7 linked regions of the Homo sapiens genome follow. The protein of the gene in region 7 interacts with the protein of the main gene of each other region in a pairwise test. Each region holds a gene or a part of one and is shown on either strand. Other genes may lie near its edges.

Region 1 (4,313 bases), on a different chromosome or scaffold from region 7:
GGCGGGGACTCAGACTGCTGCAGAGACAGGAAAGTGGGGGGCCGGGGTGGTGGGGGCTTGTTTCAGAGACCGGGGCCCTGGCTCTATCTCAGGTTTTTGTTTTTTTGTTTTTTTTTTTTTTTTGAGACGGAGTTTCGCTTGTTGCACAGGCTGGAGTGCAATGGTGCGATCTTGGCTCACAGCAACCTCCACCTCCTGGGTTCAAGCCATTCTCCTGCCTCAGCTTCCGGAGTAGCTGGGATTACAGGCATGTGCCACCACACCCGGCTAATTTTGTATTTTTAGTAGAGACGGGGTTTCTCCATGTTGGTCATGCTGGTCTTGAAATCCGGACCTCAGGTGATCTGCTCGCCTCGGCCTCCCAAAGTGTTGGGATTACAGGCGTGAGCCACCGCACCCAGCCTATCTCAAGGTTTGAGGGAGGTGGTGGTCACGAGCGTCAGAGGCCCCCTGGGGGTCTGGCGAGGCTCGGGGGCTTCGTGGAGTAGCTAGTGGGGGCGTCTGTGGAAGTTCTGGTGGGTCTGGGGGCTCTGTGGAGGGTTGGGGGACTGTGGCATTCTAAGGAGGGTCTGGGGGACTGTGGGATTCTAAGGAGGATCTTGGGGACTGTGGGATTCTAAGGAGGGTCTGGGGGACTGTGGGGCTCTATGAAGGGCCCAGCACCCCCCGCCTCGCCCTGCCCGTGGCACCTGGCTCTCCGCCGGTGGGTCGTACTGTCGCAGCTGCCCCAGGAACTCCAGGTGGCGCTTCTCCTCCTCCAGCTGGGCCACGGACTCCTCGCTGGCCCGAAGCCGCCGCTGCGTCTCCTCCAGTTCCTCCCGCAGCCACACGTTCTCCTGGGCCAGCCGCCGGGCCTGCGAGCGCAGCCGCTGCTTCTCTGCCTCCAGTGCACCCACATGTGCCGACAGGGCCAGCAGCACCTGCCCGGGGTGGGGGTCCCAAGTCGAGGTTGGTTCCTGCCCTGCCAGACGGCCCCTGACCCAGCCCAGGCCTCGAGTCAGGCCGTAGCACCCCACTACTATGCACGACACCCCCAGATTCTGCAGAGACTCTGCCAACATGGCCCCAGTGCCCTCAGAGGCTCCCAGGGGCCCCTCTGATTTTACCCCCAAACTTGCCCTAGGACCCACAGTTTACTGAAGAATGCCATCTGGTTCAGGGGTCCCTGTCACACACAAGGACCCCCTAAAGCTGCCAAGGGACTCCATCTCTGACCTGGAGCCTCCCCTTCCCAGGCCTGGTTCCCCTAGGCCTCCCCCTGCCCCGGATGTGCCTCTCTGCCATACTTTTTTCTGTTGTTTTTTGGGACAGTCTCTCTCTGTCACCCAGACTGGAGTGGAATGGCACGATCTCCACTCACTGCAACCTCCGCCTCCCAGGTTCAAGCGATTCTCATGCCTCAGCCTCCTGAGTAGCCGGGATTACAGGAGCCCTCATGCCCAGCTACTTTTTGTATTTTTAGTAGAGATGGGGTTTTCCCATGTTGGCCAGGCTGGTCTTGAACTCCTGACCTCAAGTGATCTGCCCACCTCAGCCTCCCAAAGTGTGCCCCTCTGCAATAGTGAACCCTCTCCCAGTCCCCTACATACCTGTCCCCCTCATGCCTGGCCCTCCCTCCGCCCTCAGCTGACCTTCCCCCAGCTCCCCACCTGGCCCCCTCATACCTGGGCCTCGCCCAGCCCCAGCTCGATGGCCTCCAGCGAGTGGCTCACCACCTGCTGCTTTTCCTCCAGCATCTCCAAGCCGGCTGCCGGGCCCTGTCCCGCCAGGGCCTCCGCCAGGTGCCCAGCCAGGCCATGGTGCTCTGCCCGCAGCGCCTCCAGCCCCTGGACCACTTGCCGCGTCTGCCGCACCAGCTCCTCAGGGCTCAGGCGCTCTGGGCCCAGCCCTGCACTTCCAGGAGCCGCTACCTGCACAGACATTGCTGCTCCTGGGGAGCAATGGTGAGGGGTTTGGGGAATCATTGCCCGGGCCAGTCAGTTGGCCCCCAGCCTCTATTCCCATAATGGCCATCAGGACCCCTAACTTCTCCCCATCCTGGCTCTTCCCTGCTCCACCCATCCTGGCCAGCCCTCTGCCTCCACACCCTCTCCATCCCAGTCTCCACACCCATCCCAGCCAGCTCTCATCTGGAACAGTCTTGTCTACCTTCGTCTGTCCTCCCAACCCAGGGTTCTGCCCTGAGGACAGTTCCCAAATCCTATGTGTAATTAACCAAGAGAAAGCAAACAGCTAGCCTGGGGTCCCCCATCTGCCCTCAGCTCACCTGGCCAGCCTTCCCCACCCCAAGGCCCTTGGATCCCCTGGCCCAGAGCTCCCGGTTGGCCGTGTGACCTGGGACCAGAGGCACCCTCCTCTGCCGGCAGAGTGAGGCGGGGCGTGTGGAGGCGGCAGCCTCTGCGTGAGCTCATTCTTAGGGTGTTTTTGTCGGGAACCAGTCAGACCACTGGGGGTGGGTGGGGTGGGAGGAGAGGGCCGAGGGGCCAGGGCCCCCAGAAGCCCAGGAGGCCTCTAGGTTGGGGGGAATGAGGATGGGGCCATGTGTTGGCTCCCAGGCAACAGATGGACCCTGGGGGAACAGGGGCTCCGCCCTCCTCCATCGGACAAGCTTAGCCAGCCCAGGGCCTGTCGGGACACACGTGTGATAGGTGTGGTCCAGGTATGTCACACTGGCCATGTGACAGCTGAGAGTCTGAAGCCCAGCTCATAGTGGGTGGGGGCCCCCCTCTATGGGACTTCATGTGGTTGTATGTGGGTGACAAGGTCACAGAAACTTAGCTGGTGGTGCCTCTGGGGTCCTCATATACACACAAACACACTCCTCAGAAACACCTCACACACCCGCACCCTCCCTTCTTAAAGACACAATGCAACATACACATTTTCCTCTCCGAAATACAATTTGACACACACACGCACTCTCCCTTCTCTCCAATACAACATGGGGCCAGGTGTAGTGGCTCACGCCTGTAATGCCAGCACTTTGGGAGGCCAAGGTGGGTAAATCACTTGAGGCCAAGAGTTCAAGACCAGCCTGGCCAACAGGGTGAAACCCTGTCTCTACTGGAAAAAAAAAAAAAAAAATAGCAGAGCATGGTGGCGCATGCCTGTAGTCCCAGCTACTTGGGAGGCTGAGGCAGGAGAATTGCTTGAACCCGGGAGGCGGAGGTTGCAGTGAGCCAAGGTCGCACCACTGCAATCCAGCCTGGGCAACAGAGTGAGACTTCATTTAAAAAAAAAAAAAAAAAAGACGGTACACACACACACCCTCCCAGAAATACAGTTACACACACACACACACACACACACTCCCTCATTAGAAACACAATGTAGGCCGGGTGCGGTGGCTCACACCTGTACTCCGAGCACTTTGGGATTTTGGCTGAGGCAGGAGGATCACTTGAGCCCAGGAGTTCAAGACCAGCCTGGGAAACATAGTGAGACCCCATCCCTACAAAAATAAAAATAAAAAAATTAGCTGGGTGTGGTGATGGTGTACCTGGAGGCTGAGGTAGAAGGATTGCTTGAACCCAGGAGGTTGAAGCTGCAGTGAGCCATGATAGTGCCACTGCACTCAGCCTGGGTGAAAGAGTAAGACCCAGTCAAAAAAGAAAGAAAGAAAGGACAGCATAATATACATTCTCCTCTTAGAACACGCACTCACTTTCTCCTATTAAATATACAACTCAGTAAAAACATTTACATTTTCCTTTTAGAAATACAACCTAAGACAACACACTGACTCAGGCACACACATATACTATTCTTTCAAAAACAATCTGTATACACTCCCAACACACAGGTATATTCTCTTAGAAATAAAAACCAAGCCTGGGCGCGGTGGCTCACGCCTGTAATCCCAGCACTTTGGGAGGCCGAGGTGGGTGGATCAGTTGAGGTCAGGAGTTTGAGACTGGCCTGGCCAACATGGTGAAACCCCGGCTCTACTAAAAATACAAAATTAGCCAGGCATGGTGGTATGCGCCTGTAGTCCCCAGCTACTCATGAGGCTGAGGCATGAGAATTGCTTGAACCTGAGAGGCGGAGGTTGCAGTGAGCCAAGATCACGCCACCACACTCCAGCCTGGGTGACAAGAGCAAAACTCCGTGTCAAAAAGTGATAATATTATTTAAAAAAAAGAAAGAAAAGCCAACCCACGCAGAAACTAACTCTGTCTCTCCCACTCCCCAAATCACTCACATTCAGACCATCTCCTTGCACTTGACCGTGACACTCGCTGTCCCCCGAACTCACATGGCTCCCAAGCAGCCAACTCCCCACAATGTGCCCAACGCACCTCCAGATGCACACA
Region 2 (3,904 bases), on a different chromosome or scaffold from region 7:
GATGAGGACACTGGAAGCCAATGGTTACACAGTTGGCCAGGGCAGCACCAGTACTTGAGCCACGTCTTGAGTCCAGAGTGGTGGTGATTATCTACTTTGTTACCTGGCCCTGCAGCAGAGTAAAAGAACCAGTTCCTGCCTTCATGACATTATGGGCAAATGTGCCTTAAATAGATAAAGGCCTGTGTTCATTTAGAGTCACTATGAAAAAGAACCCAGCTGTGTGTGGTGGCTCATGCTTGTAATCCTAGCACTTTGGGAGGCCGAGGTGGGAGGACTGCCTGAGCCCATGAGTTCCAGATCAGCCTGGACATCATAGAAAACCCCATCTCTAGAAAAATAAAACAATTAGCTGAGCATGGTGGCACATGCCTGTGGTCCCAGCTACTTGGGAGGCTGAGGCAGAAGGATTGCTTCAGCCTGGGAGATCGAGGCTACAGTGAGTTGTGATCATGCCACTGCACTCCAGCTGGGGCAACAGAACGAGATCCTATCTCAAAAAAACGGAAAGAAAAGAAAAGAAAGGAAAAGAAAAAGAAAAAGAACCACAGGACACTGAAAGAGACTCTAAGAGGCAAACCCACGTTAGCCTTGGGGAAGGAATCTAGGACTTTCTCCTGGAGTTGACATTTAGACTGGTATCTAAAGGAAGAGTAGGAATAAGATTTCATGTAAACACAAGACTTGATGGCTTTAAGAATTAAAAAAAAAAAAAAGCTGGAAAACCACCAGCCTCCCAATTGCCTGCCTGTGGAGGGGGCGGGGCAGGTGTAGGTGCTGGTCCCCCAGGCCTGTCTCAGACAGAGCCTCAAGTAATTGTATTAAAAATAAGTTTATTGATATCTTGTCACCACTGGGAGAAAGGAGGGGGTTGAGCTCTGGAAGTCAGAGACAGCAATGGTAGGCAGAGAACCCAACCTGTACCTCTCCCATCAGAACTCGGCGCCTCCTCTCCCTGGGGTATACACGGCTATATCCTCTTTGTCATCCGTATTTTGATTTGTCTTACAACTCCCACCCGCTCCAAAGTCTGGGTTGGGGAGGTGGGGAGTCCCCCACGGGTCAATTCTCTTCAAGTCAAGAACAGGAACTGTTAGGGAAGGGGAGATGTGCAGACCCGAGAGGTTCCCTCCCCACCCCACATAGGGCAATAATAAATAACATGAAATTGATGGCTTAGAAGTCAGGGTTAAGGGAGGCAGCCAGGCAGACAGCACTGTACCAGAGAAAGGGGTTGGGGGGGCCCATTACTGAGGCCCCCCCCAGAGAATCAGGCACTAACTAGCACAGGGAGTGGGTGCTCACATCCCTGGAGCAGGGAGCTAGGGTGCAGCTGGGATGGGCAGAGAGCATCGCCCCCCTCGACTGCGCCAAGCTGGGGAGAGGGGTTGCAGGCAGGATCATAGATAGTAGATTTCACGGAGATTTCCATCGGCCGCGCCTTTTCCGTGTAGGGAAACCTTTTCTCCGCTTGTGTGGGGGGGAGTCGTGCGGAGGGAGCGGGGCTGGGGGGGGCCGGGGTGCCCCCTCCTCGCTCCTTGGGGCAATGATCACTCCCCTGGCTGCCACCACTGCCCCGTCCACCACAGCAGCCACCACGGACACGGGCTCTGGGGTGATCTCCACCTTGGGGGCCGGTGGGGGCAGGACAGGCCTGGGAGGTGGCGGTGGGGGTGGGGGTGGGGGCAGAGGTGGAGGCAGGGAGTCAACTGGGGTTCCTGGCAGAAGGGGCAGCAGAGCGCTGAGGGCCTCGCTCAGTTTGGCCAGTCCCTGTCGAAGGGTGCCGGCCAGCTCCCGGATGGCGTTGGCAGTCTCCTGCTGGGCCCGCAGGAAGTCCAGGGAGGGGTCTGAGGCCGAGAGCGTGGGTGGAGGCCGAGGAGGGGGTGGGGGGCTAGGGGGTGAGGGTGCCACTTGGGCCAGTGGCGGTGGGGGTGGCAGTGGAGGGGCTGGGGGTGGTGGAGACAAGGCCAGGCGAGGCAGCTGGACCGGCTGCAGGGCCGAAGGGGGTGGTGACTCACGCTCCTTGGGCCGTGGGCAGCCCCCTTCCTGGGGAGTGCAGGAGGGCCGGGCCCATGGCTCCGGGCTGCTGGAGCCCGCCTTGCTGTGGGCTGATGTATCTGTAGAGAGAGAAATACAGGTAAGGGGTGAGCGACCCTCGATGCTGCCTTGATTTCCCCTTTCCCACTCCTTCCCTCACCTCCCCCCTACCCGAACCCAGAACTATCCTTCTCACCCCCGCCCCCCAGCCCCAAGACAGTCTTGGTCTGTCACCCAGGCTGTAGTGCAGTGGTGCAATCTTGGCTCACTGCACCTTCCACCTCCTGGGTTCAAGCGATTATCCTGCCTCAGCCTCCCGAGTAGCTGGGATTTCAGGTGACCGCCACCACACCCGGCTACTTTTTCTATTTTTAATAAGAGACAGGGTTTCACCATGTTGGCCAGGCTGGTCTCGGACTCCTGACCTCAGGCGATCCGCCCGCCTTGGCCTCCCAAAGTGCTGGGATTCCAGGTGTGAGCCACCGCGCCTGGCCCCAGAATGATCCTTTTAAAACCTAAGTCAGATCATGCCTTGGAAGAGAAGCTCCATGGCAGGCCAGTCTTTGTACCCGGAGGAGAAAAAGTCCTGCCAGCTTTAGTGGAAACAGGTCCTGGAAGTCCCTTGCTAGGCCAGGCAGCTCCCATCTCACTCACAGTAAGAGCCAACAGTTTTTTTATTTTTTTAATTTTTTTTGAGACAAAGTCTCACTTTGTAGCCTAGGCTGGAGTGCAGTGGCGTGATCTCGGCTCACTGCAACCTCTGTCTTCCGGCTTCAAACGATTATCCTGCCTCAGCCTCCTAAGTAGCTGGGATTACAGGCAGGCGCCACCCCGCCTGGCTAAATTTTTGTATTTTTAGTAGAGATGGGGTTTTGCCATGTTGGCCAGGTTGGTCTCAAACTCCTGACCTCAAGCAATCCACCCACCTCGGCCTCCCAAAGTTCTGGGATTACAGGTGTGAGCCACTGCGCTCGGACAAGGGCCAACATTTGACGAGGTTCTGAACTATATGGATACTGCACCACACTGCTGGATCCTGAGGAAGTGAGAGAGAGGTCTGGGAGAGAGCTGGGGTGTCTGGGCACTGGTGGACACTTCCCTGAGACTCTCTCCAACCAGGACAGCAGGATTTTCCAGTTCAGCCCCCAGCCTGGTAGGTTTCCTCAGTCTGTACTCACCTGGGGTCTCATTCATGCTCATGGGCTTGAACAGTTTGCATACAGGGGCTCCCAGCTTCCTGGGCTCAGCCTGAACCTCTCGCCTGGGCTCCAGACTCCTGTCTCCAGCTGTGTACTCTCAATTGTCGAAAAACGCCCCAAACTCACTTGCTCGGAGCTGGGCTTCTGATCCTCCCCCACCCTGCTCCTTCCTCAGCCACCCCCATCTCAGCTGATGCAGCTCCATCCTCCCAGCTGCTCAGGTTAAACACCTTCACTGTTTTGTTTACTAAGACACCATCCACATACAGAAGCTATCGTCTCTGCCTTCAAATTAAATACATACAACTTCTTTCTTCCTGGTCCCCCACCCTGGCCCAACCACCAGTATCTCCCACCAGGACCACTGCAGTCATCGCCTCCCTGAGGGCTCTCTGCTTCCACCCCTGTCCCTGACAGTATCTTTTTCCACCAGCAGCCTGAGGGGTCCAACCAAAATACAAGTCAGTTAGGCTACGGGAAACAAGCTAGTCACAAAGAACCACAGATCACAGGGGCCATTTATATGAAATGTCCAAAATAGGCAAATTTGGCCGCATGTGGTGGCTCATGCCTGTAATCCCAGCACTTTGGGAGGCCGAGGCGGGTGGATCACCTGAGGTCAGGACTTCAAGACCAGCCTGGTCAACATGGTGAAACCCCATCTCTAC
Region 3 (4,313 bases), on a different chromosome or scaffold from region 7:
GTTTGGGGCTGCACCTGTGTCCAAGAACAGCGTCCCTATACCCAAGCCCGCCCCATAAAGGGAAGGGCCGAGCACAGAGCAGCTCACAGGTGTCAGCACCTGCCCACTGTGGCCCAAGGGGTGCAGACATGGCACGCTGCTCGGCCAATACTCCATCTTCCCAGAGGGCTCTTCCAAAATTTGCCACCAAGGCTCCCTACACTCAAAATCTGCCACCAAGATGGGGCCTCACCACTCTGTCCATCATGGAAACAACTCCAGAATACTCAGGTTAGAGGACTCCCCTCCTACAGCCCAGCCTCCCAGCGGAGTCTGACTAATGGCAAGAACATCAGCATGAGACCCCAGACCTGAGTCGGAATCCTACCTCTGCACCGACTTCCTCTCAGTGCTACCTTGACCTTGTCATCTCCTGAGACTCACTCCTCGAACCCCACAGGGATCTCATCTGCAGCGGCCCCCAGCTTCTGCCTGTGCCAGGCTCTCGAGTGACAGGGAGCTCACCACCCAACATCACCACCCTCCCATTGTCCAGCAGCTCTGAGTTCAAGGTCCTGCCATGCACAGGGGTAAAGCTGGCTCCCCTGTGAGCACCCCAGCCACACCCACACAGCTGGCTCAAGTTCTGGCTCCTGCAGCCATGCCCACAGCACTGGTCCATCCCTGTCCTGGAGGAAGGGGTCCAGGGTCAAGTGCCCCTTCTCTGCCACGCACAACGCTCCACAACCAAAAGCTCAGTGAGGCAGCTGCCAGACACTGCGTACCCACCTAGCACGTCAGCGGACTTCTTCCTCTCTACAATCTGGATGTCTCGGGCACCAGCCGGGATGTGGGTCACCAGAGAGTAACCTGGAGGCAAAAGGATGACAGTGAGCCCCTCTTGATTGGAAAGGCAGCCTTGGGTGGCACTCGCCCACTCCACAGCTATTGGAGGGTGAGCGGTGGCTGTCTAAGGGCTGGCCCAACCCCCACACCCGCTTGTGTAGCTCAGCTCAGCCCCGTCCCATTGCAGAGGCTGACTCACCAAGCTGGGCACCTGCCCAGGCTCACCCCTTCCTACCAAGGCCATAGGAAGGCTCATCCGTGCTTGCCCCAGCCCCTCCCGAGGGACAGCGAGGGCCACAGGGACATGGAGCACACTGGGAGTTCAGTCCGGCTCTGCCATGTGTCACCCAGGAGACCCTGGGCAGCCGATGGAGCCCCAGCTCCCTGCGTGCATTGTCACTGCCATTTTAAAATCCTGTCTTGTGACAACAACACGTTGACTTTCAAGGCTAGCTACACTCAAAGACGTGGGTGAGAAAGGACAAGGAGAGCTGCAGATAGAATCTCCAACTAAGCCTACGCCCTTCCTAAGCACCAGGCCCCAGGCTGAGATCCAGATCGGGCAATATCAGCCAGCTCAGAGCCTGTCTTCAAGGCCCCCAGGCCCGTGCGGAGGCAGCCATGCAGTCCTCCCAGCTAGAAAGAAACCAAGGGTCTGGAGGGGAGGTGCTCAGAGAAGGAGAGGCATTGCTGGCAGGTGGCTGAGAGAGGAGCCTGGGGAGAAGGAGAGATTTTAATACGCCCTGGGACAGGAAAGAAGGGGCTCTCCAGGTCGGACGTTTCCTGAGGCTTGACGCTTGTCTCACCGGATCCCTCTGGGAACGGAGGATTCCGCGTGCATCTCCCTGCTGGGGTGAGTGTCTCCTGCAGGCCAGTACCCGCCTGCCATCCCTCCCCTAACACCATCACACCTACAGGTCCCTGGAGATCCTGACCTGTCCCTCACAGACAGCCGTGCTCTGGAAAATGTTTAACAGTGGGCTCTTTGGAGACACAGGGGAACAGGAGCTGTGACTTGTAGCATTGGCCAATTTCCGTGGTGTAAACACCCCCGCTGTGGCCAATTTCAAGCCACTGTAATGGGGCAGCTTAACTTCAAAATGCATTTTAAAACATTTTTCCCCTTCTTTGGGTTTCAAGATAGAAGCTTGAAGCAAGCGACTGAAGCTATGTTTGTTTGCACTACCAACCTGATATCACTGGGTGTGGCATTGGGAAGAGAGGCTGCAGCACACCCGTATATGGTGTTTTTGCCACACAGATAAAATAGTTATACACTTTGGGAGGCCGAGGCGGGCAGATTACCTGAGGTCAGGAGTTCGAGACCAGCCTGGCCAACATGGTGAAACACTGTCTCTACTAAAAATGCAAAAAAAATTTAGCTGGGCATGGCGGTGGGAGCCTGTAATCCCCGCTACTTGAGAGGCTGAGGCAGGAGAATCGCTGGAACCCAGAAGGCGGAGGTTGCAGAAAGCCGAGATCGCATCATTGCACTCCAGCCTGGGCAACAAGAACAAAACTCCGTCTCAAAAAAAAAAATAGTTATAGACACTAAAGGATTAGAAAATGGTGACTTTGTTTTAAATATAATGTATTTAAATATAGACTGTTATACTTTAATTTTCAAATTAGCAAGCAGCTCACAAGATTCTTGAGCATTTAATACCCCAGCCCATCCCACAGCCCCCAGCGTGGTTACCAAGCACAGTTCGTCCGGGGAAAGAGTGTGGCTCAGCTGGGAGGATCACAGGCCAAGAGTAGGCTGCCTGGGTTCAGGCCCCGTTCTGCCTCTTGTGGCTGTGTGACCTTGGATGAGTTATTTAGCCTCTCTTTGACTGTTTCTGTATATTTCAGCAACAGTAATAGTGCCAGCCTTGTAGAGCTGTTGCCAGGCGTGAATGAGTTACCTTGTGAATATGGAGAAGAATGAGGGGCGCTGTTTGCATGTCAGCCCCTTGGCCCCAGGCTGAGTTCCACGAGGACATGAGCCCTATCTCTCAGGCCTCACTGTGTGCACAGTGCCTGGCACACACTACGTGCCCTACAAGACACGTGCTGCCCCAATGCCCACTCTCCCTCTGCATGCCCTGGGTCCAGCAGGAGGCCGTGTGAGCAGGTTTGTGAGAGGAAGGGAGGAAAATCAGACACCTTAGCGGCTCCTAGAGCGAGGCCTCCAAAGAAAGGGCCTCTGCCCACCTCGCCCTGCTGGACACCCAGCCCGCATTATTCACACCCCTGCCTGTCCCTTGTCAGTCCGGCACGCCCGTCCCTAGGTCCCATGTCCAAGCCCCACCCTCTCCAGTGCCCTCCCACTGGCACCTCCTGGAGCCAACACTCACGCCACAGTTAGCCCTCAGTGGCAGGCTGAGGTCATTCCCTCGACCTTCAAGACACGGTCGGGTCCTCCGTGGCCCTAACAGGCCTGGTTCTAGTCCAGAGTCAACTGGCCTCATTGGGACCTTGACAGATTATTCCCACTCTGGGCCTTGGTTTCCCCATCTGCTAAGTGGGTCTGAAGCTGTCCTGCCTTCCCAGGTCTGGAGGTTGCAATAACCCAGTTCCATTCCTCAAACATTTCTTCAGAACCAAAAGTGTGTTCAATCTAATGCCAAGCATTACAAGTGACATCCCTCCAAAAGTAGAAAGTGCTGTCCCATGCACAGACGCCCACCCCCGATGAGGGCTGGGACAGAGCTGGACACAAACATCGGGCCAAATGCCTGCAGCTTAGGAAGGGGACAGGTGCTGCCCAAGGGAAGGAGGGGTTCTGGGCTGGGTCAGCCTGGAGCCGACAGGGAGCCTCTGAAACTCAGGCCCCAGAATCCAGCGTGCCAGGGTCAAACCTCATATCCGTGGAGAGAATGGGTCTTGGGCCTTAGTTTCTCCCTTTTTAAAGTGTGGTGTTAGCCAGGTATGGTGGCTCATGCCTATAACCCCAACACTTTGGGAGACGGAGGCGGGTGGATCGCTCGAGGTCAGGAGTTCGAAACCAGCCTGGCCAACATAGTGAAACCCCATCTCCACTAAAAATAGAAAAATTAGCCAGGCTTGGTGGCACATGCCTGTAGTCCCAGCTCCTCGGGAGGCTGAGGAATGAGAATCGCTCGAACCTGGGAGGCAGAGGTTGCAGTGAGCCCAGATCAAGCCACTGCACTCCAGCCTGGGCAACAGAGCAAGACTCTGTCTCAAAAAAAAAAAAAAGGTGCATTGTTAACACCTCCCTGCAGGCTGTCTCAAAGGGCAAATGTGACCCCCAAGCCAAGTGTCCACTGGTACCCAGCAGGTCCTCAACAAAGGGTTGCCCATTCTTGCAAGCCAACGGAGGCCTACAATCACCAGGCCAGCTCACCCGGCCTGGGATGCTGAATCAGGTGCCCCTAGAGGGGAAGAACTTGCCCAGTGGTACACAGGAGGCTGCAGACAGGAGCACACTCAGGACCCCCGATTCCCAGACTCTGCTGTGCTTGGACTCCAGGGCGCGCTGTGGC
Region 4 (4,313 bases), on a different chromosome or scaffold from region 7:
CCCCGAGTCACCCCTCCCTAGCTACATGACTCTGGCAGAGCACTCACCTCACTCAGCCTCCCTTTCCCCCCACAGCACCTACACCTCCTAGTGGGGTAAAGACCCAACAAGATCACTCCTGTCTGGTGCTTAACCCAGTGCCTAGCACACAGTAAGAGCCCCCAAAGTGTAGCTACTGTTATTCTGTCTCTGTGCCTCTGGCCCTGCTGTTCCCTGCTGGAAAAATGCCTTTCTTCTCCCACTTCTCTCCTGGAAAACTCCTGGGCATCTTTTGGAGTTGGAGGTAGAAGATTTTTCCTCGTCGAAGCCTCCTCTGCCTCCCCAGAGGAGCCCACGCCCCGTTGCATGCACCCTCATGGCAGCACACCTCCACCTCGGTGTAGCACCTGTGTGCAGGATCCCAGCAGCTGACAACTCCACTGGTCAGCCTTGCCCAAAGGGCCATGGGCTCCTCCAGGGCAGGGATGGGCCTCTCTCCCCAGAATCTAACACCTTCCAGGTACATGACAAGTGCTCACCATATACTTGATGAATCAATTGAAGAGAGAAATGAGTGCGCTCTGGGGCCAGACAGTCCAGCCCATGGTGGGCTGAATCCTCACCCTCTACTGCCCCAGAGATAGGCTAGGGCTGCTGGTGGCACTGAAATTAGAATGCACGATGGGCAGTGCCAAGCCCCCAGATTGGGGAGCTGCTGTCGCATGTGTCTCGGACTAGAGGAAAAGAAAGCAGAGGGAGAATGCTGAAGTTGCCTTTTCAGAGTTTCAGGAACTCACCTCCCTCGCTTTTTTCTTTGAGATTCTCCACGTAGTTGGTTTTCCTCAGTTCTCTGATGATACCCTTGTTGGCATCGTCCAAGGCCTGTGGATGGTAGAGGGAGCTTAGCCCCTGTGTTTGGCACCTACACCATTAATTTTCCCCACCCAGATCAATCCCAGAAGGCAGGGCTCTGGTGGGAACCTGCCACCCTTGGTTTCCCTCTGGCCCCTCCAATGACCCCTACCCTCAGGTTAATCTACACTTACTGACTCAGAATGATCCACACAAATTGTGTCTGGGAGATACATGACTGCGAGTCAGTCAAATGCATTTCTCTTTGGCTTAGGCATGTATTGGGAGTTGTGTCTATCTACTCATTTCTACCTTTAGATGAACTACCTAAAGCTGCTTTTGGCTTCAGTCAATGCAAAAAGACAATCCAAACCTGCAAGCACTCAGCAAGGCAGCACTGAAAAGACCCAGAAACACACCAAGGGGACAGGCTGGGGGCTGGCCTGCCTTCAGAAGGGCCTTCCAGAATGTCTGCAGTTTCCCCAACTCGAGTGCATGATCCACAGGGGCCTGGAGCCCCTGTGAGCCTCTGGAGGGCAGGTCTTGCCTTCTTGCTCATAGCAGGCCCGTGGCTGGCACTGACAGAACACCAGCTACACATGGTAGTGTCTACTGAGCAGCTCCGGGGCCTGGATGCACTCTCTTGTGGTGTTGGTCTGCCCACCCCCCACCTCCCTCCCACTGTGAGCCTTCCTACCTGGAGTTGCCAATCCAGGAGGGTGAGGGGTCGGGGGCCTGGTCCCATGAGGAGTCAGTGAGGGTCACAGGTACCTTCTCTCTGCCCCTAACCCTTCAAACTACTGCCTAGCCTTCAAGGTGACCTCAGATCCTCCTTGTTGGAAAGCCTCCAGCTCTGCCTCCCAGCTGGGGCTCTCTCACTCTGAATTCCCCTAGTCCCCTATGGCACTGGTCATGAACCAGGGTTTGTGCTTTGTTTTTTGTTTGTTTGTTTGTTTTTTTTTTTGAGACAGAGTCTCGCTCTATCATGCATGCTGGAGTGCAGTGGCACGATCTCAGCTCACTGCAAGCTCCGCCTCCTGGGTTCACGCCATTCTCCTGCCTCAGCCTCCTGAGTAACTGTTTTTTTGTTTGTTTGTTTTTTCTTTTTAAGAGACAGGGTCTTGCTATGATGCCCAGGCTGGTCTAGAACTCTTGGACCCAAGTGATCCTCCTGCCCTCAGCCTCCCAAAGTGCTGGGATGACAGGTGTGAGCCACTGTGTCTGGCCTTTCGTTGTAATCTTCTTGTGGGCTAGGACAATGGCCGCACACATTTGAGCTTGGCAGCCTGGAGCCAATCTACACTCGGCGAATATTTCCTGAACTGAACGGCCATGCTGTCTGTCTGCAGGGCGATCACATGGAAGTATGTGGCGCATGGTACATCTGGCAGGGCTGCAGTGAGGTGGGTGCTCTTCGCCTGGAAGCCAGAGCTGGGGACATGGCATTTATGACGAGGACGACAACATGCTAGGCCTGGGCTTCCCTGGGCCGTATGGTGGCAGAGGATAGACTGCGCCTGCTGGGGTCTTTTGGGTATGATTTCTCCGCCATGAGAGGGCAGTGTTAGCCTTACCACAGTCCTCACAAACAGCTCACCATGAACCTGCCTCCCAAAAAACAGAGGTGATCAGATCACTTCTCTGCTGTCCACAGCCCTTCAAGTCCAGGCTGGTGTGCTGACTGTCTGGGGCTCTGTCACCACCATCCCCCGCCACCGGGAACCCCCCAGCTCTGGGACCCAGGCCAGGATCTCTCTTCTGCCGGCCACCAGCCCTCAGCGCCGACCTCCCACGTCTTCAGTGCACTTGCCCCTCCTCGGCCTGGCCAGCTCTGCTATCCTTGTCCTTCAGAGCACAGCATGAGGTCTTCCTCCCACTGGGAGTGTCCTGAGCCTTCACTTCTCAGGGTCCCTGCTCTCTTTGCCCAGTGCCTGCAGACCCCAGGCTGGTCCCTGAGGCCATGCCCCTTTGCTGCCCACAAGTTATGCAATCTGGCTTCTTTCAATGATGGCATAAGCTCCCCAAGGACAGGGGCCCCGTTTACTTCACTCCAGCAGATACTTCCTGGGGTCCAGCTGCGTGCCAGTGGTGCTCTGGAATTTGGCTGTGGGAAGGGCTTAAGGAAGCTGTCTGGTCAGAAGCAGGAGGAAGAGGCCTGGGTGAGTGTGCACCTGTGAAGTTGGTGTGCAGACTTTACTAAGCTTGTGCGTCCACCTGGATGCACTGGGAGTGGGTGGGGTGGGGGAGCCCAGAGCACCTCCAAGTTTCTCCCCTGGTCTCTGCCTCCTGACACAGTCTAGGCCAGCACTATTCAACAGAAATTTCTGTGACAATGGGAATATTCTAGATCTGTATTATGTAGCACCCATAGGCCACATGTAGCTTTTTTTTTTTTTTTGAGACGGAGTCTCGCTCTGTCGCCCAGGCTGGAGTGCAGTGGCGTGATCTTGGCTCACTGCAACCTCCATCTCTCAGGTTCAAGCAATTCTCCTGCTTCAGCCTCCCGAGTAGCTGGGACTACAGGAGTGTGCCATCACACCTGGCTAATTTTTTGTATTTTTAGTAGAGACAATGTTGGCCAGGATGGTCTCAATCTCCTGACCTCGTGATCCACCCGCCTCGGCCTCCCAAAGTGTTCGGATTACAGGTGTGAGCCACCGCACCCGGCCTCACATGTGGCTATAATGACTTGAAATGTGGCTAGTGTGACTGAGAATTTTACATTTTATTTACTTTTTTTTTTTTTTTTTTGAGATGGAGTTTCGCTCTGTTGCCTAGGCTGGAGTGCAATGGCATGATCTTGGCTCATGCAACCTCCACCTCCCGGGTTCAAGCGATTCTCCTGCCTCAGCCTCCCAAGTAGCTGGGACTACAGGTGTGTGCCACCATACCCGGCTAATTGTTTGTATTTTTAATAGAGATGGGGTTTCACCATGTTGGCCAGGCTGGTCTCAAACTCCTGACCTCAGGTGATCCATCCATCTCGGCCTCCTAAAGTGCTGGGATTACAGGCATGAGCCACCACACCCAGCCTAGTTTTAATTAACTTTAGCCTCACGTGGCTAGCAGCTGCCTCCTTAAGCAATGGAAGTCTAGGCAATTACAAGTGCACAACGTGGACTTTGATGGGGGACATATCAAGGCTGTGAAACCTGATGTGAGGGCTCCTCACCCAGACTGAGGGGTCAGAGAAGGCCGCCTCAAAGAGGGGACATCTAAGCTGAAACCTAAAGGTTGAGTGGGAGTTAGCCAGGTGAAGGAGGTGGGAAGGGAAGGTTTAGAATATTCCAGGCAGAGATAACAGCATATGTTATGAGGCATAAGAAACCTGTTTAGGCCGGGTGTGGTGGCTCACACCTGTAATCCCAACACTTTAAAAGGCTGAGACAGGAGGATCGCTTGAGTGCAGGAGCTCTCAAGTGCCCAGCCTGGGCAATATAGTGAGACCTCATCTCTACAAAAAATAAAAATTAAAAATATCA
Region 5 (4,313 bases), on a different chromosome or scaffold from region 7:
TGATCACACTACTACACTAGAGCCTGGGCAACAAAGTAAGACTCTGTCTCAAAAAAAAAAGGTTTTCTAATTATACTAGGAGCCTCATTCCAAAGAGTAATATCATCCATGCCCTGCAGTTTTTCCTGACGTGTAACACCATTTCCTGCAATTGAAATCACAAGACATTATGCTGCCTTTGACCTGACAGGCCTGTTGAGACAAGGAAAACATAAACCTGATGGAACCTGACTCATCCCATGAACCTGGGCTCGTTAATACCTAAATTCAAAAACATTACAGCTGCCATTCAGTCTTTGTAAAATGGCTGCTGTTGATTTACTTTCTCTAGGCCTGAACTTTATTCCAGGACACTTTACAGGTTAAGAGAGAAGCCAAACACTTGCCAGTGATTACTCTTGAAGAAGCACTGGATGTGGAAGATGTGTTTTAATTTCCTCATATTCCCCCAAAGAGGCCAAGGCTGAGGTGTACCAAGGTCAGGGCTTAGGTGCATTCATTTAAAGTAGTTTCAGTTGTTTTGAATTTCCCCAGGAGAGAACAGTCATTTTTCAAATTTATTTTTTATTTTTTTAGGCAGAGTCTCACTCTTTCGTCCAGGCTGGAGTGCAGTAGTGCGAGCTCAGCACACTGCAACCTCTGCCTCCTGGGTTCAAGCGATTCGTGCCTCAGCCTTCCAAGTAGCTGGGACTATTGGTGCGCACCACCATGCCCAGCTGATTTTTGTATTTTTAGTAGACACAGGGTCTCACCATGTTGCCCAGGCTGGTCTTGAATTCCTGGCTGCAAGTGATTCGCCCGCCTCAGCCACCCAGAGTGCTGGGATTGCAGGTGCGCACCACTGCACTCGGCAGAGCAATCATCTTGAGAGAGGACAGGCAGATATTCTCGAGTGCCTTGGCTGAAATCCAGCCCAGGCCAGCGGCACCCAGAACATGATGCCATAGGCACAGGAAGCCTATGGCCAAGAGGCCCAGACTTGGTAGTGATTAACAAAATATAGAAATCTTTCCTGCCACCCCCAAGAAATCTATTCATGAATGTCAGTGTATTAAATATATGGCCAAGTGCAGTGGCTCATGCCTATAATCCCAGCACTTTGGGAAGCCCAGGCAGGAGGATCACTTGAGCCCAGGAGTTCGAGACCAGCCTGGGCAACATAGTGAGACCCCCCAATCTCTAAAAATATGTTAAAAAATAACCGAGCATGGTGGTGCATACCTGTGGTCCCAGCTACTCAGGAGACTGAAATGGGAGGGTTGCTTGAGCCTGGGAGATTGAGGCTGCACTCCAGCCTGGGTGACAGGCTCTCTCAAAAAAAAAAAAAAAAAAAAGAGAGAGAGAATAAAATATGAAGATTAGGTCAGGTGGGGTGGCTCATGCCTATAATCCCAGGACTTTAGGAGGCCAAGGTGGGCAGATCGTTTGAGCCCAGGAAGTCAAGGCTGCCATAAGCTGTGATCGTGCTACTGCAATCTAGCCTAGTTGACAAAGCAAGCCCCTATCTCAAAAAAAAAAAAAAAAAGAAAGAAAAGTATGAAGATCGTAACACTTACTCTCTGCTTTAAATACTGCCAACAGATGATCTGAAATTAATTCTTCCACTGAAGATTCCAGCTTCCTTTCTCCATCAATTATCCAAGGAGTTTGTGGTAGATTCCTGGAGTATTTATTATATCTCCCTGAGAAAGAAATAATCAGATAGCCTGGATGGAATGGAGTAATTAACATGGTAGGATAAAAAGAGAAGCAACAACTATAAGGGCCAATATCCTAAGTGCTACGATATAAAACAAGGCCTATCCTTTACCTAACTAACAATCCAATTTGGAGACCTGGGACATATACATGTAGATAATTAAATAAAAAGGTTTAAAGTAACAATAAAATAGATGGGTAAATATATGATATGAATGGTACATCAAATGAGTTTGAAAGGAATGCTCAATATATTTAATTTGATTGGCTGACTAAACAAGTTATATAATATTATGAATATACCAAGGATAAAAAAAAAAAAAAAAAAACGCAACCAAACTTGCTTTTACACCTGATGAGTAAAGCTACAGTAAGGCAGGTAGCTTTCATTGCCCTAGGATAGGATATTATAGTCAAGGCTGAAGAGCAATTTCACTTCAGCTATTACTATAAAACAGTTGTAACTTTCAAACAAAAATTTGTCTGCCAGATTACCTTTTAGGAAAGTCAATGAACAATTTCTTTCCAGTGGAAGCCAAGTGTTTAGTCATTTTGGAGATAATAAGTTATTTTTTCAAGTTTGCTTTTATGTTATAAAATAGCCTCTGTCCTGCTGTTTTTCTCCAAACCAGTTTTGGGTCTCTGCATCTACCCATATTTCTACTTGGCCATCTCTGATGAGAACTATTAAAACCTAGGAAGTGTCATTTCCCTTTGGCATGGCATTTAAAATAACTGATCTCCTAAGTGATCCTTTAGAATGCCCACAAAACCTAAAATAAGTTTGGCTATTGATTCTACTTCTCAAGAGAGTAAACTTATTAGAATCTAATAACAACAATAAGAATAAAATAGAACAGGAGTCAGCTGAGTTTTTAGAAAGGAGAGTACGTTCACAGTGTATGTATATTCTAGACTAAATATTTTACCAGCCACAAAAACAGCACCATGAGCACATTCAATTTCAAGAACAGCGCATACAGCCTTTGGTGAGTTTGGAGGACAAGGAAACTGCCTGCAAAACAAAATAAATTTTATAGCTATTTTCCAGACATAATATTGAATCACAAAACTTAGATGAATCAGCATTGTCTGAGACATACACAGAGCCCAAGTCTCTCTCTAACTTTTAGTTTCGCAACAATACAGGTCTTGCAGGCCTGTGGAGTAACAATTTTAACATATGAGAGTGGCACTAAGTAAATAAGGGCTCTGCTGCTACCTTTCACCTTCGGGAGGACTTATCTTCCGAGGCAAAAACTGCAATTACTTTTGCACCAACCTAATACTTTCCAATAGCCTCAAGATTTGAGGGAAAAATCCATACATAGGAAGTGGAAGCCCCTTCAGGCTCTTTAACCATTTTGCTGTCCATGGTCATGTGCAGTTTACTGCTGACTCTACCCCCCTTATCACATCATCGTTTGAAATGTATTGAAGGATCTTCTGGAAAGAAAACTTACAGTAATATTTTATTTAATAAAATGAATGTACCAAGAATTAAAATGTAAGGTTTATTGCATTTATTTTATTTTAGCATATTTTAACAAGTGAGGAAACTCATGAGCCTTCCTCTCCCTTTTCTGGAGATGAACGATACTAGGAAATACAGGACTAAGGATGTAATAGGCATAGCACTGGGCTAGAATTTCAGGACATCTGGCTCCAGGTCTACTCTATTACTAGCTTAGGCAAGTCAACTCCTTCTTTGGACACACTACCCTCTTCTAAAAGATCAAGAAGTTAAACTTGATTCGGCCGGGCACGGTGGCTCACGCCTGTAATCCCAGCACTTTGGGAGGCCGAGGCGGGTGGATCACCTGAGGTCAGGAGTTCAAGACCAGCCTGGCCAACGTGGCGAAACCCTGTCTCTACTAAAAATACAAAAAATTAGCCGGGCAGTGGTGGTGCATGCCTATAATCCCAGCTACTTGGGAGGCTGAGGCAGGAGAATCACTAGAACCCGAGAGGCAGAGGTTGCAGTGAGCCGAGACTGCTCCACTGCACTCCAGCCTGGGCAACAAAAGTGAAACTCTGTCTCAAAAAAATAAATAAATAAATAAGTATTTTTTAAAAAAAAAAGACGTTAGACTTGATATTAATTTGACAAACATTTACTGAACACCACATATGCCAGGTACTGCACCATGGGTTGGAGAGATAACAATGACTAAGACACAATCCTGGCCCCTGAAATACATCATCTTGTTTCAGAGATAATCCAGCTTATCTCTAACATTCCCTTTATTCTAAAATTTCACGATGCTTCTTTGTTTCTAAACTTCTACTTACTTAAGGAAATCCTCTTCCTTTATCTTATTCAAGGCTTTCATAACTGCCATTCTAGTGAATACAGACTATATAGGGTAAAATGAGAAGAAAAGACATTTTATTATCCAGACAAGAAAACATCAGACGTGAAACACAGAACATGGCTGGAGAAATTGTATCATTTCATTATATCATTTCATATACTTAACATGGAGAAATACTTAAGCATTTCAAGAAAATAAATAAAACTTAAGCATTCATGTCAGTTCTGCAACTGGCATACCTCTGTAACCCTTCTCTTCAATCTGGTCTTTGTCTATAATAACAGGCAGATCTAGCAGAAC
Region 6 (4,313 bases), on a different chromosome or scaffold from region 7:
GTGTATATGTACATATGTGTATATATGTATATATGTGTATATGTACATATGTGTATATGTATATATGTGTATATATACATATGTGCATATATACATATGTGTATATATGTGTATATGTGTATATATGTATATGTGTATATGTACATATGTGTATATATGTATATATGTGTATATGTACATATGTGTATATGTGTATATGTACATATGTATATATACATATGTGTATATGTACATATGTGTATATATACATATGTGTATGTGTACATATGTGTATATATGTGTGTATATGTACATATGTGTATATATGTATATGTACATATGTGTATATGTGTGTATATGTACATATGTGTATATATGTGTATGTGTACATATGTGTATATGTACATATGTGTATATATGTATATATGTGTATATGTACATATGTGTATATATGTGTGTATGTACATATGTGTATATGTATATATACATATATGTGTATATACACATATGTGTATATGTATATATACATATATGTGTGTGTATATATGTATATATGTGTGTATATATGTATATATGTATATATGTGTGTATATATGTATATATGTATATATGTGTGTATGTATGTATATATGTATATATGTGTGTATGTATGTATATATGTATGTATATGTGTATATATGTGTGTGTATATATGCATATATGCATATATGTATATATATGTATATACGTATATATATATATATATATGCAAAAAAAACCTATCAAACAACAACTACAACAACAACAACCCAAAAAACAAAAAGGCAGGACAGGGCTTTGGTGAGGGCTGGATGGGAGGCAGCCTCAGGGCAGGTGCAGGGGCGGGGCCAAGAGTGAGGGGGCAGGGCCTTAGGCAACGGTTGGCTCAGAGGCACGGTCAGATTCAGGACAGGCAGTCTAGTCAGGTGGGAAAGGATGGGTAGGGGGGTCACTGAGTAAGGGGAAGGCTGGAGGCCATGTCAGAGCCAAAATGGTGCAGTCGCTTAGGAGGGGAGGGGAGGAGAGGCGGGGTCAGGGATGTGGGAGGGGTCTTCGCACCAAGTGGGGGTGGAGTCAGAGAGGGGGCGGGGTTAGGAGAAACAGAAAATGGGAGAAGGCCTAGGATGAGGGAGAGCCAGGGCATGGCTGGTTTGTGCTGGGCTGGGCTGGAGTCACAGGCGCGCACCCCTGGGTGCGCCCACCTTGCGCTCCATGCGCTCGTTCTCCAGTTTCTTCTCCTCGGCGCGCTTCTTGCACTCACTTATGTAGCGTTCCCGCTTCTTGCGCTCTCGAACCAAGGTCTCCTCTAGGTACTGCAGCTGGTTCTGGAGGGCGGGCAGGGTAGCAGGGAGACCAGCTGGCACCTACCACTGCCCGCCGCAGGGTGCTGGGAGATAGATGGGGGCGGGGGCGTAGGGGAAGCTCAGGGACAGCTGAGGTCAGATTCTCAAGCTGGGAGACCGCGGCAGCTGGGCAGGATGGCCGAGGGCAAGAGGGGTGGCACCTTGGCAATGTCCCGGGCATTGAGGGCCTCTTGGTTCACCACGTGCAGTGCCTCCAGCTCATGTTTGGTCCTCACCACCTCAGCCTCCATGGAGTCCAGCCGGTTCTCCAAGTTGAGGCTCTCGTCCTGGGGCGTGGTGGGGAGGGGTAGCGGAGATGGTGCAGGTCTGTGACTGCTGTCCCTAGCCAAGCCCGCCCTCCCTGTTTGTCATCTCACCCGAGCCCTCCTAGTCCCTACCATTAGATAGGCCTTGAGCTGCAGGTACACGCTGGTAATGTGCTCGGCCTCCTGCGCCTTCATCTGGGCCTTCTCCAGGCGGTTCTCCAGGTTCCGCATGGTCTGGAGAGCAGCAGGGCTGGGCTGAGGGCCCTCCGCACTCAATCCCTCCCACACGACCCTCTGCCCTGCAGGCCTCACCCGCCCCTACCTTGGCCACCTCCGTGTGTCTGTTTTGCGCCTCCGCCATCTCCAGAAGGCGCAGGCTGTGCTGCAGCTGGAGCTCCTCCAGCCGCCTCTGCCGCAACACCACCTGGTGCCGCAGGGCGTTCTGCTGCTTCACCTTCTCCCTCAGCCGGTGGTCTAGGTGCTCCAGGGCCTGCCGCAAGGAGGGGAGCGAAAGCAGGAGCCTCAACACCCTACCCCGACACACACCTAGCCCTTCCTCCCTTCCTTCTCCCACACTGTGGCTTCCAGGACTCCCCTCTCCCGTTTTCTACCCACCTCCCTGGCCACCCCTTCTGTGTTGTTTTTGTAGAGAGAGCACCGGAGTCTTCTCTCTGTCTATATCGACCACCTTGGCGATCTTACACCGGCTCAGGGTTCTAAAAAAATATTTTTAAATTTTTCTTTCTTTCGTTTTTTTTTTTTTAGACGGAGTCTTGCTCTGACACCCAGGCTGGAGTGCTGTGGTGCAATCTCGGCTCACTGCAACCTCCTCCTCCTGGGTTCACGCCATTCTCCTGCCTCAACCTCCCGAGTAGCTGGGATTACAGGTGCCCACCACCACGCCTGGCTAATTTTTGTTTTTGTTTTCTTTTCTTTTTTTTTTTTTTTTGAAACGGAGTCTCGCTCTGTCGCCCAGGCTGAAGTGTAGTGGCACGATCTCGGCTCACTGCAACTTCCATCTCCTAGGTTCAAGCAATTCTCCTGCCTCAGCCTCCCAAGTAGCTGGGATTACAGGCATGTGCCACTACACCCGGCTAATTTTTGTATTTTGGGTAGAGACAGGGTTTCACCACGTTGACCAGGCTGGTCTCAAACGCCTGACTTCAGGTGATCCACCTGCCTCGGCCTCCGAAAGTGCTGGGATTACAGACGTGAGCCACCTCACCCAGCTATCTTCTGGCCATTTTTTTCTTTTAAAAAATGTTTTAGGCTGGGCGCGGTGGCTCCCGCCTGTAATCCCAGCACTTTGGGAGGCCAAGGCGGGTGGATCACGAGGTCAGGACATCGAGACCATCCTGGCTAACACGGTAAAACCCCGTCTCTACTAAAAATACAAAAAATTAGCCGGGCATGGTGGCAGGCGCCTGTAGTCCCAGCTACTCAGGAGGCTGAGGCAGAAGAATGGCGAGAACCCGGGAGGCGGAGCTTGCAGTGAGCCAAGATCGTGCCACTGCACTCCATACTGGGCGACAGTGCGAGACTCTGTCTCAAAAAAAAAAAAAAATTATAGAGGCAGGGTCTCGCTATGTGGCTCAGGCTGGTCGCGAATTCCTGGGCCCAAGCCATCCTCCTTCCTCGGCCTCCCAAAGTGCTGAGATTACAGGCAAGAGCCACTGCACCCAGCCCAGTTTTGTTTTGTTTTGTTTTTTGAGATGGGGTCTCACCCTGTCACTCAGGCTGGAGTGCAGTGGCTCGATCTTGGCTCACTGCAACCTCCGCCCCTTGAGCTCAAGTGATCCTTCCTCCTCAGCGTCCTCAGTTGCTGGGACCACAGATGCATGCCACGACGCCTGGGTACGTTTTTGTATTTTTGGTAGAGACAGGGTTTCATCATGTTGCCCAGGCTGGTCATGAACTTCTGAGCTCAAGTGATCCACCTGCCTTGGCCTCCCAAAGTACTAGGATTACAGACGTGAGCCATCACGCCCAGCCTTTTAATTTTTATAATTATTTTTTCAGACAAGGCCTTGCTTTGTCACCCGGACGGGAGTGCAGTGGCACGAACATGACTCACTGCAGCCTCGACCTCCCCAGTTCAGGTGATCCTCCCACCTCAGCCTGGCAAGTAGCTGGGACTACAATCCTGTGCCACCACATTTGGCAAATCTTCTGTATTTGTTGTAGAGTCAAAGTTTCACTATGTTGGCAGGCTGGTCTCAAACTCTTGGGCTCAAGTGATCCTCCAGCCTTGGCCTCCCAAAGTGCTGGTATTACAAGGCATGAGCCACCATGCCTAGACTGTGTTTTATTTTTTATTTATTTATTTATTTATTTATTTATTTATTTATTTATTTTGAGACAGAGTTGCCCAGGCTGGAGTGCAATGGCATGATCTCGGCTCACAGCAACCTCCACCTCCCGGGTTCAAGGGATTCTCCTGCGTCAGCCTCCTGAGTAGCTGGGATTACAAGCATGCACCACCATGCCCGGCTAATTTTTTGTATTTTTAGTAGAGACGGGGTTTCGCCATGTTGGCCAGGCTGGTCTCAAACGCCCGACCTCAGGTGATCCGCCCGCCTCAGCCTCCCAAAGTGCTGGGATTACAGGCGTGAGCCACCGCGCCCGGCCTTTAATTTTTTATCTTTTGTTTTTGTTTGTTTGTTTGTTTTTGTTTTTTTGAGACAGAGTCTCGCTCTGTCACCCAGGT
Region 7 (5,027 bases):
GTCCCACCTACTCTGCACTGTAGTGGAGTCAGACCTTTCACTGTAACCAGTTCCCACGGGGACTGATTCACCAGCACTATTTTTTTTTTTTTTGAGATGGGGTCTCGCTCTGTCACCCAGGCTGGAGTGCAGTGGCGCGATCTTGGCTCACTGCAACTTCTGCCTCCCGGGTTCAAGCAATTCTCCTGTATCAGCCTTCCGAGTAGCTGGGACTACAGACGCCCGCCATCACAACTGGCTAATTTTTGTATTTTTTAGTAGAGACGAGGTTTCACCTTGTTGGTCAAGCTGGTCTCGAACCCCTGACCTCAGGTGATCCACCCGCCTCGGCCTCCCAAAGTGCTGGGATTACAGGCGTGAGCCACGGCGCCCTGCCCACCAGCACTTTAAAGCCTGAGAAGGATCCCAGCTTCTGCGGTGGCCCCCACCCCAATCTCAGTGGCTTGTTTTAACAAGGAGGGTACTGAGACCCAGGGAGAGGCAGCAACATGTACACATTTCCCGACACCAGGGAGGGCTGCTGGGGCCAGGTCAGCCATGGAGGAGGAGGAGGTAATACTCACTCTGACCCTTCCACCCTCTGTCCTCGCCTTGGGGTAAAGGACAGATGCCCTCGCCCCCCATCCCTCCAGGCAACGAGAAAGGGGGCACCCTTGGTCATTTCTAGGCACCTGGGCGGTGAGACTGAAGCACAGCTATGGGAGGGCCTCTCAAACATCACCCCTCCTCCTGGCTGAACCTCAGATCCCCAAGCCCTCCTCAAAGATCCAGCCTGGGCACCCCGCAGCCCCGTTCCTGACTGGGCAAGGCTCCTCAAAACTGGGGTCCCTATCTGGGTGTCCCAGATCCCCCTTGAGGCCAGGCACCAGGTAGGTGCCGGCTCTGGGCAGGAATGCTGAACACATGAGTGACATGGCAGGGCTGACACCTGGTAATGTCAGCCAGCTCCAGGAGTCTGCATGAGCACCTCCCGCCCCACCCCCCGCTCATCACTCCTTTTGGCAGGTGAGGAGATGGAACCTCAGAGCCCCCACCCTGACTGGGCAGGGCTTCCATGCAGGGCAGCTTGGGGCTGCAGGGCTCTGCCCAGGACTTTCAGTGGGAGCTCTGCGGGGGTCCTGAGGAGGGGATGGTTTGGCTGCATGGGTGTGTCTCTGGCTGTGTGTGCGTGCGTAAGCGAGTGCGTGAGTGTGTGAATGTGTGCCTGCGAGTGTGGCACTCTAGAGCTCCCCCTGCTCTGGCCGGCCCTCCCAGCCCAGACCCCGGCCAAGGGTTCCAGGAGCAGGGAAGAGGAGAGAGGAAGGGAGGGAATCCCCCGACTCACAGGGATCCGCGATACACGCGTGTGCACATTCACACACACCCACCACTCTCCCAGAAATCCACCACACAGGCAGAGGCAGCCCCCAGCCCCACCCCAGCAGGACCCTCGCTGAAACACGCAGTCAACATCCCCAGAAGCCTCCTCCACCTCCTCCTAGCACTCTCTGCTGGGAGAAGTCCTCCTCCTCCGAGCCGCCCCCTGAAGATTCCTCCCTCCCGGGTGGGGCGGGTGGGAGGGTGAGGTGGGCTTCCCAGAGATGGGTGATTTGGGTCCCAGGGGAGTTAGGAGGGGTGAGGGGTGAGTCTGGTCCATGAAGAGGACCCAGCTCTCTGTAGGGTAGAGGGGTGTGGGGAAGGGAACAGAGGACTTGGAATGGAAGGGGGCGGGGTGGGGAAGACCAGAGGGGTACCAGCTCAGGGCTGATGGGCGATGGCTCTGGCTCAATGGAAAGGAGACGAGAAGACAGAAGGTGGGGAGGGGGCTTCACTTTTAAAGTGGCAGTAGCTGGGGCAAAGGGTCTTTGAGCGTGAGATGAACGGGGGCTCAGGGTCTAGGGCGAAGAGAGGTGGGCTAGAGGTAGGGGTTGTTAGGGGTCTCAGAAAAGTATCGCTCCGGACAGGATCCGGGATGGAGAGGAGGAGGCGGCTGGACGCGGCGAGGGGCTCCGGTCCCGCGGGGTAAAGGGTGGGGGTTTGGCTTGGACAAAACTAGGGGGACAGTGGCCGGGTCCGGGGGCTCACGGCTCCCCACTGTGGGCAGGCAGGGACTCCGAGAAGCGCCGGTGGAGGGGCGGAGGAGGGGGGTCTCCCGGTCCAGGGAGAGGACTGGGCTGGAGACCGGCCTGGACGTGGCGGGGCTGGGGGCTCCCGCTCCGGCACGCGGAGGGGCCGGGGGTCTCCTGCCCGGGTAGGGAGGGCCTCGCGGGTCGCGGCGTCGGGGTCCGCCCGAGGGGCGGAGGGGGCTCCGGGTCCCAGCGGAGGCCACGGCGGGGGTCCCGGCCGGCGCGTACTCACGTCCAGGATGACGGCGGTGCCCCCGCGCGGCGAGGCTGGGCCGGGGTCCGCGGGGGCGGCGGGGGCCAGCGACTCCCGGGGCTCGCCCATCCTGGCGCCCACCCAGCGCAGCAGCCCGCCCAGCGCCCGGCCCTGCTGCGGCGGCTCCCGGAGCAGCCTGTGCGCGCCGGCCCTGCACAGGCGCGCCGCCCGCTCGCACATCGCGCCGCGCCCGCCGCCGCCGCCCGGAAGCCCGCCGACCCCCGCCCAGCTGCGGCCCGCCCCCGCGCGACCCCCTCCCCGCGCTGCCCGCGCCGCCCCGCCCTCTCTCCCGCTGCCCCCGCGGCCGCGGACACCGCGGGGACTGGCCGGCGCCGGGGGGCGGGCCGGCCGGACCCCGAGCCACGTGCCCGCTCCCCGCCGCCCCCACCCCCGCCGGCCGGGCGCGGGGCCTGAGGACTGCCCGCCGGGGCGAGGGGCGCGGGCGCAGCCACAGAGGGGGCTACCCGGAGGGGAGGGGTATGTGGGGCCTGGGGGCGGGGCGGCGCCCCTGGGGCCTGCTCCCCAAAAGTCTCCTGCTCTCCCCGCTTCTAAAGTCCCCCCTCCCACTCGCGGCGCGCAGCAGAGGCCGAAGCGCGGGTGTCCAGCGAGCCCGGAGCGCCCTCTGCCGGCTCCAGCCCCGGGGAGCGGCGCCCACGCCCCGCGGCCCCGTCACGCCCGCGGGCGCCCATCCTTAACTCCCGCGGGCGTGCACGCCCCCTCAGGCCGCCCCCTTGGTTACAAAACGCCCAGAACCAGTCTTCACCCCAGAACATCTTTCCTTCATACTCCATCCACCCATCCATCTATCCACCCACCCACCTGTCCGTCCATCCATCCATCCATCCATCCACCTGCCTACCCGTCCATCAATCCATCTATACATCCATCCACCCATCCTCCCATCCATCCATCCGGCCGGCCGACTGTCCGTCCATCCATCCACCCACCCTCCCAACCATTCATCCATCCATCCATCCACCCACCCAGCATCCTCCCATCCATCCATCCATTCACCCACCCACTCATCCTCCCTCCCTGGCATCCATCCATCCACCCTCCATCCATCCATCCATCCACCCTCCCATCCATCCATCCATCCATCCATCCATCCATCCATCCATCCGTCCATCCATCTGCCCGCCCGCCCATCTGTCTGTCCATCCACCCACCCACCCTCCCATCTATCCATCTATCCACCCCCCTACCCTCTCATCCATCCATCCATCCACCCACCTACACACCCTCCCATCCATCCACCCACCATCCTTCCATCCATCCATCTATCCTCCCTCCCTCCCATCCATCCATCCATCCTCCCTCCCATCCATCCACCCACCCACCCACCCCCCTCCCTCCCATCCATCCATCCATCCATCCACCCACCCACCATCCTCCCATCCATCCAACCATCCTCTCATCTATCCATCTGTCCACCCACCCACCCATCCTCCCATCCATCCATCCACCCATCCATTTAAAAGATGAATTAAGGAGAACCCACTAGGTGCCAGGCAGGTGCCCAACCACGGAGTTCCAGCAATGGGCAAAACAGATGGTGTACTTGGTCTCCCAGAGCTCCTGGAGCTTACATCCAAGTGGGCAGAGCCAAACACTGAAATGATTCCACAAACAAATGAACAATTAAAACTGAACTGCTGGAAGGGTGTGGTGGCTCATGCCTGTGATACCAACACTTTGGGGAGCCAAAGAGGGCGGATCACTTGAGGTCAGGAGTTCAAGACCAGCCTGGCCAACATGGTGAAACCCCGTCTCTATTAAAAATACAATAACTAGCTGGGCGAGGTGGCAGTCACCTGTAATCCCAGCTACTTGGGAGGCTGAGACAGGAGAATCATTTCAACCCAGAAGCAGAGGTTGTAGTGAACCAAGCGCCACAGCACTCCAGCCTGGGTGACAAAATGAGACTCTGTCTCAAAAAAAAGAAAAAAAAACTGCACTGCTATGAAAAGGTAGCACCTTAGACCATGAAAGGAGTATTTGCTGTGACGGCAGTGGAGGGGTTTGTGTCAGAAGAGGCTTCCTAGAGGAAGTGATTCTTATGCTGAGACATCCCAAGGAAAAGGAGTTAAAGAAAGGCGGGAAACTGTCCTGGGCTGGGGACTCTCTGTGCAAAGGCCTTGGGGCAGGCAGAGACCTGGCCAGCAGGAGGGACTGAAAGGAGGCCGCATGGCAGAACAGAGAGGAGGGAGGCCTGGGACAGGCTGCGGAGGGGGCGGGGCTGCAGCGCCCTCCTGGACATCACTGCCTGCACACACCCGCCACTCCCACCCCCAGACTCTAGTACAGCTGCCCGCTCAACTGCCCCCACACTTGGGGCACCATCCTTTGTACCCCAAGGCCCCAGCCATGGACCTCATCCAGGACCACATGCCCCAGGACTCCTCCCACAATCCCCTTTCCTCCCTTCCCCCCAGCCCAGTGCAGGGTTCCGGGAACGCAGCTCCCTCCGAGCACAGAGTCCTCAGACGCATGAGAGCAGGTGGGCACTGGCTTTATTTGGGACCTGCTTCTGGAAGGCGCAGGGCTGCAGGTCTCCTGGCTGGGTGCTCAGCTGGTCACACCAGCAGCTTTCCCCACAAATCCCAGGTCTAGGCCAACCCTGGCCTGCGGCCGCTGTTACCACCTCAGACACTGGTCTAAGTCCAGGG

What was found.
Region 1: the proteins of NECAB2 (region 7) and KLC3 interact in binary tests that used the Homo sapiens proteins (3 or more experiments, as listed by UniProt).
Region 2: the proteins of NECAB2 (region 7) and MYPOP interact in binary tests that used the Homo sapiens proteins (3 or more experiments, as listed by UniProt).
Region 3: the proteins of NECAB2 (region 7) and ADAMTSL2 interact in a two-hybrid assay, tested with the Homo sapiens proteins (one large-scale study listed by IntAct).
Region 4: the proteins of NECAB2 (region 7) and ODAD4 interact in binary tests that used the Homo sapiens proteins (3 or more experiments, as listed by UniProt).
Region 5: the proteins of NECAB2 (region 7) and PUS10 interact in binary tests that used the Homo sapiens proteins (3 or more experiments, as listed by UniProt).
Region 6: the proteins of NECAB2 (region 7) and ODAD3 interact in binary tests that used the Homo sapiens proteins (3 or more experiments, as listed by UniProt).

Annotation. Positions count from the first base shown.
Region 1 is NC_000019.10:45,343,151-45,347,463, reverse strand, and holds part of KLC3 (kinesin light chain 3), read right to left. Parts: intron 1,931-4,313; 5' UTR 1,923-1,930; coding exon 1,665-1,922; intron 921-1,664; coding exon 690-920; intron 18-689; coding exon 1-17. UniProt on the Homo sapiens protein: Kinesin is a microtubule-associated force-producing protein that may play a role in organelle transport. Plays a role during spermiogenesis in the development of the sperm tail midpiece and in the normal function of spermatozoa.
Region 2 is NC_000019.10:45,889,207-45,893,110, forward strand, and holds the end of MYPOP (myb-related transcription factor, partner of profilin), read right to left. Parts: intron 3,074-3,904; coding exon of another isoform or gene 2,964-3,073; intron 2,118-2,963; coding exon 1,417-2,117; 3' UTR 817-1,416; downstream 1-816. UniProt on the Homo sapiens protein: Transcriptional repressor; DNA-binding protein that specifically recognizes the core sequence 5'-YAAC[GT]G-3'. Dimerization with PFN1 reduces its DNA-binding capacity.
Region 3 is NC_000009.12:133,541,006-133,545,318, reverse strand, and holds part of ADAMTSL2 (ADAMTS-like protein 2 precursor), read right to left. Parts: intron 850-4,313; coding exon 769-849; intron 1-768.
Region 4 is NC_000017.11:41,957,930-41,962,242, reverse strand, and holds part of ODAD4 (outer dynein arm-docking complex subunit 4), read right to left. Parts: intron 862-4,313; coding exon 777-861; intron 1-776. UniProt on the Homo sapiens protein: Component of the outer dynein arm-docking complex (ODA-DC) that mediates outer dynein arms (ODA) binding onto the doublet microtubule. Plays an essential role for the assembly of ODA-DC and for the docking of ODA in ciliary axoneme.
Region 5 is NC_000002.12:60,958,836-60,963,148, forward strand, and holds part of PUS10 (tRNA pseudouridine synthase Pus10), read right to left. Parts: intron 4,056-4,313; coding exon 3,991-4,055; intron 2,714-3,990; coding exon 2,628-2,713; intron 1,683-2,627; coding exon 1,557-1,682; intron 1-1,556. UniProt on the Homo sapiens protein: Protein with different functions depending on its subcellular location: involved in miRNA processing in the nucleus and acts as a tRNA pseudouridylate synthase in the cytoplasm.
Region 6 is NC_000019.10:11,424,945-11,429,257, forward strand, and holds part of ODAD3 (outer dynein arm-docking complex subunit 3), read right to left. Parts: intron 2,097-4,313; coding exon 1,929-2,096; intron 1,841-1,928; coding exon 1,739-1,840; intron 1,628-1,738; coding exon 1,502-1,627; intron 1,323-1,501; coding exon 1,200-1,322; intron 1-1,199. UniProt on the Homo sapiens protein: Component of the outer dynein arm-docking complex (ODA-DC) that mediates outer dynein arms (ODA) binding onto the doublet microtubule. Involved in mediating assembly of both ODAs and their axonemal docking complex onto ciliary microtubules.
Region 7 is NC_000016.10:83,966,160-83,971,186, reverse strand, and holds the start of NECAB2 (N-terminal EF-hand calcium-binding protein 2), read right to left. Parts: upstream 2,944-5,027; 5' UTR 2,539-2,943; coding exon 2,338-2,538; intron 1-2,337. UniProt on the Homo sapiens protein: May act as a signaling scaffold protein that senses intracellular calcium.